Linked DNA regions of Homo sapiens: region 2 is linked to region 1. Evidence: fine-mapped expression QTL. A gene starts in region 1. The other region holds a variant in brackets. All regions are shown on one strand. Distances are from middle to middle. Region 1 holds the start of TMEM161B-DT (TMEM161B divergent transcript). Region 2 overlaps TMEM161B-DT (TMEM161B divergent transcript).

Evidence for each region.
Region 2: its variant is fine-mapped to the expression of TMEM161B-DT in whole blood (INTERVAL, PIP 0.98).

The regions. Positions count from the first base shown.
Region 1 is chr5:88,266,342-88,271,730 of GRCh38, reverse strand. TMEM161B-DT (TMEM161B divergent transcript) reads right to left here and starts at 2,849. Exons shown (of 3, transcript NR_039995.1): 1 at 2,704-2,849; 2 at 1,146-1,205. It overlaps TMEM161B (transmembrane protein 161B), which reads left to right and starts at 2,886. Exons shown (of 12, transcript NM_153354.5): 1 at 2,886-3,010. The coding sequence starts at 3,008. RefSeq lists enhancers at 2,720-2,909, 2,600-3,099.
Region 2 is chr5:88,322,247-88,327,635 of GRCh38, reverse strand. The region is part of intron 2 of TMEM161B-DT (TMEM161B divergent transcript); the gene reads right to left. Among named protein-coding and RNA genes, the nearest start is that of TMEM161B-DT, 56 kb to the right of the region's middle. The variant A/G (reference allele first, on the strand shown) is at 2,783.

The sequences.
Region 1 (5,389 bases):
TTAGGAAAACAGTATATGTTAGGGGAAAAAAAACTACAATGAAAGCATACGACACTTAACCTTGTTCAGAAACAGTAATTTCTTAGCAGAAAAACTAAGCAGAACATTTTGCAAAAAATATGGACTGAACTGCGAAAAAGTGATATATCTTAATGGTTTAAAGAGTTCCAGGTCAGTGTGGGTATCGTACTTTTTGTTGGTCTTGAAAGCATTTGAGAACAGTTCTCATTCAGGACATTTCAACTCATCACAAAGCCCGAATGGTAAGCAACCAAGACTTTTCTCAAAGATTATGCTCCTAATTCCCTTGCTGAAACTACTGAATTTCTTTTCATCTCCATCTATCTTTTCTTCCCTTTCATAACTGTCCCCTTTCTTTGTATCTTTGTCAAAGACACTCACCTATTTTAAATAATGGAAACAGAGAAATTACTGTACTTCAAGGCAGGCAACCAATAGATAATAATATTATTCTACCAAAAAAAAAAGACTGGGTGGCACTACCTTAAAACATATATCCATTTTAATCATTAAATAGCATTACTTATATAACAGATTTTTCACATGTAATTGAGAGAACTGTGTGAAACAGAACATTAAAAGATATTAATCAAGAGTTATTCATCAACTTGCCATACAACAAATAAGGAACACTGCACTCTGTGATCTATTAAAAATGATAAGCAGATAATCAAAACTGCGATTTCTTTTCATGGTTTTACTCTAGCAGGAATGGATTCCATTCTGATAGTAATTCCAGTTTTACTGTCACATAGAAGGAGATACTTTGCGAACCTCAATGACTGCCAGGTTTAGGACAGATATTAAGAACCACAGTGTCAGAAATGAAAGAGTACAACTTCACAGAATGTGTTGTCTCTGACAGGTTGATAGCCACTTACCTTCTCCATCTTTTCTTCCTCAAGGATAGCAGCTGCTTCCCACAGATACACCAACAGGCAATTCCAGCCCCTCTCTACCACACTTACCATTTGCAGGTGCCTGTGGCTTGTCTATTTACAACCTTGTCCCTACACAGCAGAAGCGGAACCCTTCAGGAAGTTCTGGATTCATCCTCAGCAGGATCTGTTTCACAAACTATTCTCCAGTCCCACCTTCCCTCCAGGTATTCTGTCAGTACTTACGATTCCCAGATCTTCTTTTAATTGTCACGCTGTTCGTCCCCTCACAAAATCAAGTTTAAACTAAAAAAAAAAAACAAAAAAAAAAACCCTCATACACTCAGTCTGTGTCCCCTTTCCTGACATAAAATAACTGGCCCTGTGCATGCTTCTTTTGGATGGCTGAGAACCCCGATTCCTTTGGGCCATTTACAGCTTGGATACCATACGCTCCAGGTACTTTGATAAGCAGGGTGAAATTTAATATCTATAACAACGCCTGCCTACTCAACCTTCTTAACTTCTCCCAAAACTTCCTAGTTTCCCTTCCCAATTCCAACTTCATAACAAAACATCACACTATGGCACAAAGTGAATTCATGGATGAAATTACTAACAGCTACAACTTAAGTAAGGACCCCAAGTCGTGAGACAAATTTCTGGGTTGAAAGTGCTCTGTATATCCATTTCAAGCCTGCCTCCAGTACGATGTCTCATTATAATCAAATAAAAAGGCAGAAAAAGTTGAATGGAATAGAGTTTGGAAAAAACACAAAATTAAAAGTTGTATGAGAGTTTCACTTATTTGCATCTGATATAAATATCTATACATCTATAGAAAAAAAAAACCCTCATACACTCAGTCTGTGTCCCTTTTCCTGACATAAAGCAACTGGCCCTGTGCAAGCTTCTTTGGGATGGCTGAGAACCCCGATATATCGATATATTTATAGATAGACGTCTACATATCTATCCAAATATCTATATCTATCCATATATCTACCTATCTATCTATCTATATATATATCTATATCTATCGATCGATATCTATCTATATCTATCTATCTAGACTTCCCTGGTGAGGGAGTGAACCGCTGCCTGACGGGGGCCAAGACTGGCAGAGCAGAGACGCGGTTTGTACATGAGGGGAGGTGGTGGCCAGAGCAAAAGTGAACCGCAGGCTAGGCAAAGACCACAGCACACAGCCATACAGGTGTCCAGGACCGTCAGATCCCAGAGCATCTATCTATATAGATAGGTATCTATATGGAAAACGTCCATATTGGAACGTATTAAAGAGGCAGAATTTTCTTCCTGGGTTCTCTGCTCTTGGTAGATGTTCTTCCGGCTTCAATTGCCACCTGTGAATAGTGAAGAAACTTCTCACTATGAGATTCCATTGCCCGGAAGGAGGGTAGAGCTACGGTACCCACTAAGGCAGGGAACAGAAGCAACAGACGGACAGGTCTGTGGAAATGAGGATATGCTAATAAGGGACCGAGTCAGGAAAACTAGAGGGTAACAAGAGGGCGTCAGTTAAGCTGAGACAAAATGACGGCCAAAGGTGGTCTTTACTCTCTCTAAATCACCTGGGTCTGGAGTCGACTCCCATCGCGCACCCTCACTCCCACCCCTGGCCCCCTCCCGCCCCCCACCCGCCCCCCTCCCTCTCCCCTCCCGCTCCCCACACCAACGTGTGCCTCCGTCACCTCTCAGACAGTGGATGCGTTCCTGTTGAAACCACCCAATCTACCTCAGGGTCCTCGCAAGCGCAGCCACCACGATCCGCCCGCCCACGTACCTGTGCTGCGCCTGCGCCTCCTCCGCTCTCTCAAGGTCAGCACCGCCCCCAGCCCACAACCTGGCACCCACGGAAGTTGCTTTAGAGGACGTCCTGCGTATCTTCACCTCTGCGTGGCGTGGGGTCGACGGCGCTCTGGAGAAGGGAGGAACTTCCTGTCCCGCGCGCGCACAACTTCCGGCAGAGCCGGAAGACCCTCTCTTTCGCTGTTTGAGAGTCTCTCGGCTCAAGGACCGGGAGGTAAGAGGTTTGGGACTGCCCCGGCAACTCCAGGGTGTCTGGTCCACGACCTATCCTAGGCGCCATGGTGAGTTCTTCTGTGAGGGCAGGAGTGACAACGGTGGGGCGAAAAGGGCGGGGAGGTCAGTACTGTGAAAAGAGCCATCAGGTGCTCTGCTCAGAATGGAGTTGAGACGTTGGGATGAGCTGCTGGGTAGGACCCACCACCTATCTCAGGGTGTCTGAGCCCCTGAGGAAGCAGCATTACGCCTACCTGTCTGGGAGACTAGCGGGCCGGAGGCAGGGGCGTATCTGTCAGGGAGTATGGACTGGGTAGCCTGCCTGTTCATGGCCCATTTACTGTGTATGGCCTGTGGCGCCAGGTGATCCCAGAGTTGACCTTGCCGGGTCAGTCACCTCTTCTGCGCCCCCTTCTCCATCCGCGGAACAGTGGCCAAGAACTTCAGATCTTAGAAATGCTTTTAGCCTCTCCAGGTGGACACAACGGGTCTCCTTGTATAAGATCAACACCTGTCATTTAAAGAAACGGTAGTCCCCTTATTCTTTACACTTAGCCATTTCATAATTGAAAAGGGTGTCAAATAAAAAACCCGAGTTTAGTAAGGACAGACTTTATTCGAAAGGAATATTGCAGGGGTGTGGAGGAAGGTTGAAGGAACTGTTGCAGTAGGGAGAATGACCGTAAGATTTGCATGCACCTTAAAGGTTAGGCAGAAAGGGTTTGTCTTTTGTTGGTAGGGGTAAATAAGATGTCAGGAATTGGGATGAAAATATGGGTATGATCCGGCAGTAACCAGATAATGTTTTACCCTGAGCCCATGTATTCTGAGGAGGAGCTGTTAGGAGAGGTTTGTATATGTTGTTTCAGACTGAGGGAAGGACAAAATTCAGGTACCCGAGAGAAGAGAATCTTAAAGTTTGGTTAATAAGTATTTTGTTCCGATTGATCTGTGGGACAGGTACTTCAGCAAGTCATTTACGAAGCAAAGGATGGGAATTAGAAGGGTCTAGTTATGGCCTTGTTATAGGTAAACAAGGGGTAGGGGGGTATGGATCAACCCTTAGTCTTATCTAAGTTCTACAGGAAAGATGATTCTTTGCAGTAAGCCAATTTCTCAGAACACAAACGGGGGCAAGGGGTTTCTTAACCTTTGCTGTTTTTCAAGATCACGGGGCTCTGGTGAAGTTCATTATTGTCAGTTTCTTCACCGTATACAAGATTTCAAACCCTCACTTGCAGAGGCTTCTGTCCTGGAATTTAGCTTCAGTTTGTCTTATATTTTCAGGGCCAAATATTGCCAACATTCAGTTAATGTGTGTGGTGATTGGCTTTTGAATGACTTTTAGAAACTTAGCTGAATGTAGAACAAAGACCTTCAAAATAATGTAGTTCCTGGTGCACTTTACCAGATAACCTATCTCTTTAAAGTTTTTTTTTTTAAGCCTCAGTGAATAATATGGTTTGTATTAAGAAAGTTGTTTTTCTTTTGTATCAGTGAAATTAGACAAGGATAGGGAAAACAGAACTGGGAGAAACCAAAGCCTAGTAATCACTCTTCCATCCCCATTTTTACAGAAGAAAGAATCTGGGGTCTAGAAATTGACAGTGATTTTTCTAAAGTAACAGTAGTTTGGCAGTCTGGACTAAAACTCATATTTTCATTTTTTAAATTTAAGATTAATTTTTGACTTTTTGGTCTGAAAAGTTGAAGGTAAAGTATAATTAAAATACTTAAGTTCATCATAGTCACAGAAAAGCTGAACATGAACTTGTTCTCAGTGTTTTGGAATACTAGAAGTAGAATCCTGCTTATCCTGTCGGTTCAAAAGAGATGGTTAATGTTTGGAACTAATGTAATCTTATGCTGTTTTTCTGAATGTCATTTTGGAACTAACTAGTTGGCTCTTTTCCTTCTGGAAGTGCTTATATTTCTGAGCTAATTATCTTGGCTGAGTTTTATCTTTCCCAGCTATGAAATTGATAATGTCTGTATATGCAAGTGTGGTTAATGCTTGGAATTTTTCAAAGGGAAGAGTTTAACCATTAAATGAAGTGAACATGGGCTGAATTTATTGAGGATTCAGCTTGTTGAAATCAGAACTTGTTTTGCATTGCTGGGGCCTAATGATATTATGAAAAGAACATTAGTATTGACCCCAGAGGACCCAGATTCTGCCCATTGTTAGTTATATGGATTTGGAAAAGTCACTCAATTTTGATAAGAGTTCCAAATTCCTCCTGGGTAAGAGAAGTGGGACTTGATGGGTATTAAAGCACCTTCTTAAATTTATGATTCCATGACTACTCAACATTTTTGAGGATAGTTACATGTTTCAGATTAAATAAAAGTTAGTCTGATTTCCACTGTTTTGTTTCCATGCCATTTTGGCTTAAGTTTGATTTCTTTTATCATTCTCTTTTTCATTTTTTTCATAAGTCACATAG
Region 2 (5,389 bases), 56 kb before region 1:
AAGAAAATCAATCAATCAGATCCTTATCTTACACCATACACAAAATCAACTCAAGATGGATTAAAGATTTAAATATAAGATCTGAAACTATTAAGACTCCTAGAAGAAAACACAGGTGAAAAGCTCCATGACATTGGACTTAACAATGATTTCTTGGATATGCCACCTAAAGCACAGGCAACAAAAGCAAAAATAAATGAATGGGATTACATCAAACTAGAGAGTTTCTGCACAGCATAGGAAACAATCAACAAAATGAAAAAGGAACCTATGGAATGGGAGAAAATATTTGCAAGCCACATAGCCATAAAAAGAATTAATATCCAAAACATATGAGGAACTCACACAACTTAATAGCAGAAAAAACAAAGAACCTGAGTTAAAAATGGGCAGAGTGTCTCATGCCCATAATGCAAACATTTTAGGAGGCTGAGGAGGGAGGATTGCTTGAGGCTGAGAGTTCAAAACCAGCCTGGGCAACATAGTGTGATCCTGTATCTACCAAAAGTTAAAAAAATTATCTGGGCATGGTGCTATGTGCCTGTAGTCTTAGCTACTCAGGAGGCTGAGGCAGGCAGATTGCTTGAGCCCAGGCATTTGAAGCTGCAGTGACACACCACAACACTAAAGCCTGGCTGACAGACAAGACCCTCTCAAAAAAAAACAAACAAGCTAAAAATTAAAAATAAAATTAAAGTGGGCAAAAGATCTGAATGTACATTTTTCCAAAGAAGACATAAAAATGACCAAGAGGTATATGAAAAGGTGCTCAATATCTTAAATTATCAGGCAAATGCAAATCAAAACCACAATGAGATACCACCTCGCACCTGTTATGATGACTATTAGCAAAAAATTGAAAGATAACAAGTGTTGGTTAGGGTGTAGAGAAAAGAAAAGTCTCATACACAGTTAGTGGAAATGTAATTAGTACAGCTATTATGGAAAACAGTATGGAGGTTTTTCAAAAAATTAAAAATAGAACTATTGTATGATCCAGCAATCTCACTACTGAATATATATATCCAAAGAAAAATAAAATTGATATGTTGAAGATATAGCTGCACTACCACATTCACTGCAGAACTATTCACAATAGCAAGGATATGGAATCAATCTAAGTGTCCATCAACTGATCAATTAATAAAGAAAATGTGATCCACACACACACACAAAACACACACACACACACAATGGATATTATTTACCCTTTAAAAAAAGGAAATTCTGACATTTATGACAGCATTGAGGAACCTGGAAGACATTATAGTAAGCCACACACGGAAAGACAAGCACTGCATAATCTCACTTATATGTGAAATCTAAAAAAGTCACATTCATGGAAACAGAGAGTAGAAGGTTGGTTACCAGTGGTTAGGGGAAAGGAGAAATGGGAAGATGTTGGTTAAAGAGTATAAACTTGCAGCTATAAGATTAGCAAGTTCTGGAGCCCTAATGTATGGCACGGTGACTATAATTAATAATAATGCATTGTATACTTAAAATTTGCTAAGAGAGAAGATCTCAAATATTTGCATCGTACACACAAAGAGATAACTGTGACGCAATAGATATGTTTATTAGGTTGATATGGTAACCATTTTACAATATATACATATATCACAACATCATATTATACACCCTTAATATATGCAATTTCTACTTGCCAACTATACCTCAGTAAAGCTGGGAAAAATTTATTTATTGAACCAAAAAAATCCGTGCATTAAAAAAAGACTAAACAGTTACATTATTATGCAAGGTTGATGTGAAGGTAAAAGTATTGTAGGTAACAAGTGAGCCTAAAGAATTACCTAGCATTACCATTTCATGATGTTTTTGTAGTTTTTGACTAATAGTATGTGTAGTTGCTCTGATAAAATTATAATATTCTATATTAGAGTAGCGGAGAATAATTATATACTTTGGTGGTATTGAGTAATTTGGAAATTTGCAAAGATCTAAGGATGCATCTTTGAAAAGGCCAGCCTGGTTTATCATTGACAAGGGTATATAGAGTACCGGGAGAAGTCATCTTTTTAGCCCTCATTACTTGAGTTGGGCAGTGCCCTAAAGTTATGCAGAGAAATTAGCTGGGTGTGATGGCACATGCCTATAGTCCCAGCTACTCGGGAGTCTGAGGCGGGAGAATTGCTTGAGCCCATGAGTTCCAGGTTGCAGTGAGCTATGATCATGTCTCTGCACTCCAGCCTTGGTGACAGATTGAGGCCTGGTCTCCTTAAAAAAAACACAAACAAACAAAAATGCAGAGAAGCCAAAGCTGTGGGGCCATACTGAAACTTGTTGGGTGCCCTTGTCTCTATGAGAAGCACCCAGTGAGATGTTTCTCACTGGTCTTAACAAGATATTGCATATATTCATTTCTTTTTTATTGTTATTTTTTGATTTAAATACTTACTATTAAAATAAAAATGTTTGAAAACTACTGACCAGGTTTCCCACAACCTCAGCTTTCCTCTACGTAAGATTTTACTTGCATCTAAAAAATCTCTGACATACCTGTTAGGATCCCATTTGTGAGGTCCTTTATCGATTACATGATTATTAGTCCATGTCTGAGTTAGACGCTGTCTTTCAAAGCCTTCATTTCAAATTCATTTAGTTACCAGTTTTTCACACTAGATAAATTATTTGGAGTCTTTCATTAGAATTTATTTTCCTAAGCATAAGCCCCTCTTTTCCCTATAATTTTCATTTGTTCTTCACTGCTTACCAAATTATGGGCAATCTCTGTATCCTGGCATTTTAAATCTTCGATCAC[A/G]TGGCACCAGAACTGTCTACCACTGCATGCCTACATGTGCCTTAGAGTGCAGTAGAGCTGAGGGCCAGGACAATATCTCACACATGCTGTGTTAAGTCTTACAGAAACAATATCAAACAACTAAATCTGCCATTGTCGCTGTTATGCTTCCCATTGTCAGCCCCAAGTCACTAATTTTTTTTTTCTTTTTTGAGACAGAGTCTCACTCTATCGCCAGGTTGGAGTGCAGTGGTGCAATCTCAGCTCACTGCAGCCTCCACCTCCCGGGTTCAAGCGTTTCTCCTGCCTCAGCCTCCCAAGTAGGGATTACAAGCACGCACCACCATGACCAGCTAATTTTTGTATTTTTAGTAGAGACAGGGTTTCACCATGTTGGCCAGGATGGTCTCAATCTCCTGACCTCGTGATCCACCCGCCTCGGACTCCCAAAGTGCTGGGATTACAGGCGTGAACCACCACACCCGGCCACTAATTTTTTTTTAAAACTCTGATTGAAGGAGAAAAATGTTTTGTTCTGTTTTGTTTTGTTTTCTCTCCCTCTCTGAAAAAAAATGCTTACATTTTATGGCAAGTTGTCTCAGTTTGTTTTGTGCTGCTATGACAGAGTCCCACACCTCCCATAACACCTCCCATTAGGTCCCATCTCCCAACACTGTTGCATCAGGTACTAAGTTTCCACCACATGCTTTTTGGGGTATATATTAAAATCCTAGTAGAACTGAACATTTATATTTTTTAGTTTTGTATTTCTTCTGTTTTTCAAGAAATAGCCTATTTCTTTCCATTTAGAATATATTTTTCAAATCTTCACAACACATAAGCAATATATTTAATATTAAATCTGTAACATGACAATAAGGTTAATAAATGTTAATAAAACCACCAGTTTGTTTACTTTCTGAAAGTATATAAGAAAATAAAAATGATTGATTACTTTATTTGGTAAATTTAGTACTTCTAAAAGATGTCAAATGAAAGACTGAAATCCCTCATTTATTGCCAGACAAATATAACAATGAAACACAGCTTTATCACAGTTATTTATGTAATTAAGCATTCTGTTTTATTTTAGGAATTCTTCGGAGGAGGTACTCTTCACATTTAAAACAAAAATTTTGTTTATTATCTTAAATCAAAGGTTTGAAAACCACATGGTACATTTTTTTTTTTTTTTGAGACGGAGTCCCGCTCTTTAGCCCAGGCCGGATTGCAGCGGCACAATCTCGGCTCACTGCAAGCTCCGCCTCCCAGGTTCACGCCATTCTCCTGCCTCAGCCTCCCGAGTAGCTGGGACTACAGGCGCCCGCCACCGCGCCCGGCTAATTTTTTGTATTTTTAGTAGAGACGGGGTTTCACCGTGTTAGCCAAGATGGTCTCGATCTCCTGACCTCGTGATCCGCCCGCCTCGGCCTCCCAAAGTGCTGGGATTACAGGCGTGAGCCACCGTGCCCAGCCGGTACATTTTTAATTTAATATTAACTAAAAATATGCAAGCAACTAATCTTAGTTGTTTTCTGTTTACTTCTATTCCTGGAAGATTTCTAACATAGTCTCATGCCCAATTTTCTAGAGATAGCTTGCAGCTTATCAGCTTGCTTCCATTTAGTAATAATTGGGGTATTTGGATGCACTAAATAAAATATGATATATCGCAGATTTTGGCAATGCATATAAGTTACCTTAAATACTTTCTGCTGATTGCCCAGTGACTATATTTATGCATATTATATTTATATATCTTATATATAAAAACACATACATGAATTCCTGAAAATGCGTTATAGACTGAGTGATGTTTGTCTTCAATTATAGTACGTGTTTTTCTTTTTCCTTGAATGGCTCTTTCCAGTTTATTCTGTGACTCAGCTACACTAACCACAGTTCAACTTAAACACTGAAATTGCTTTTACATTGCTTATCCAGGTTGGGGGAGAGGATGGAACAGGAGGGTGCAGAGGTTTGGGGACCATGGAGAATGATGAGAAAGCTCAGTGGCTGGGTCCGACAGTTTCTTTAGAAAATGTAATTCAATCTACTTCTCCTTGGCTTTGTATTTGCAACTATTTGAAGTTATGTAAATATTTTCATCTGTTTAACATCTTAGCTTTTCTTTCCCATGCTCATGTCCTCATAACGAATACATTGTTATCAAAAGAAATTTATATTAAAAAAGAATGAATTTCCTGCTACTAATTCCTCTGGAGTATATACCTAGAGTTACCCAAGTGGGAAGCAGTCAATTCAAATTAACTGCCACTTGGAGTCCCTGACCCTCAGAAACCACTGCTTGTTTATTCCCTTCCATTGTGTCTTGTTGCTTATGGCACGCCTCTTCTAAGAGTAGTCATACATGTTGTGCTTTAGTTTCAGCTGCCCTGAGGGATTATTTGCATTTTGGAATCTTTAGTTTCAGTCAGACCATAATAAACATAACGTCAAATTTTGTTAAAATTAGTCCTGAACTTTTCACATGATGTGATAATAAAAAATAGAATACACTCTACACAATATGCATTCTACAATGGAGTTAAAGGCACATATAGGCTGGGTGCAGTGGTAATGCCTATAATCCCAGAGCTTTGGGAGGCTGAGGTGGGTTGATCGTTT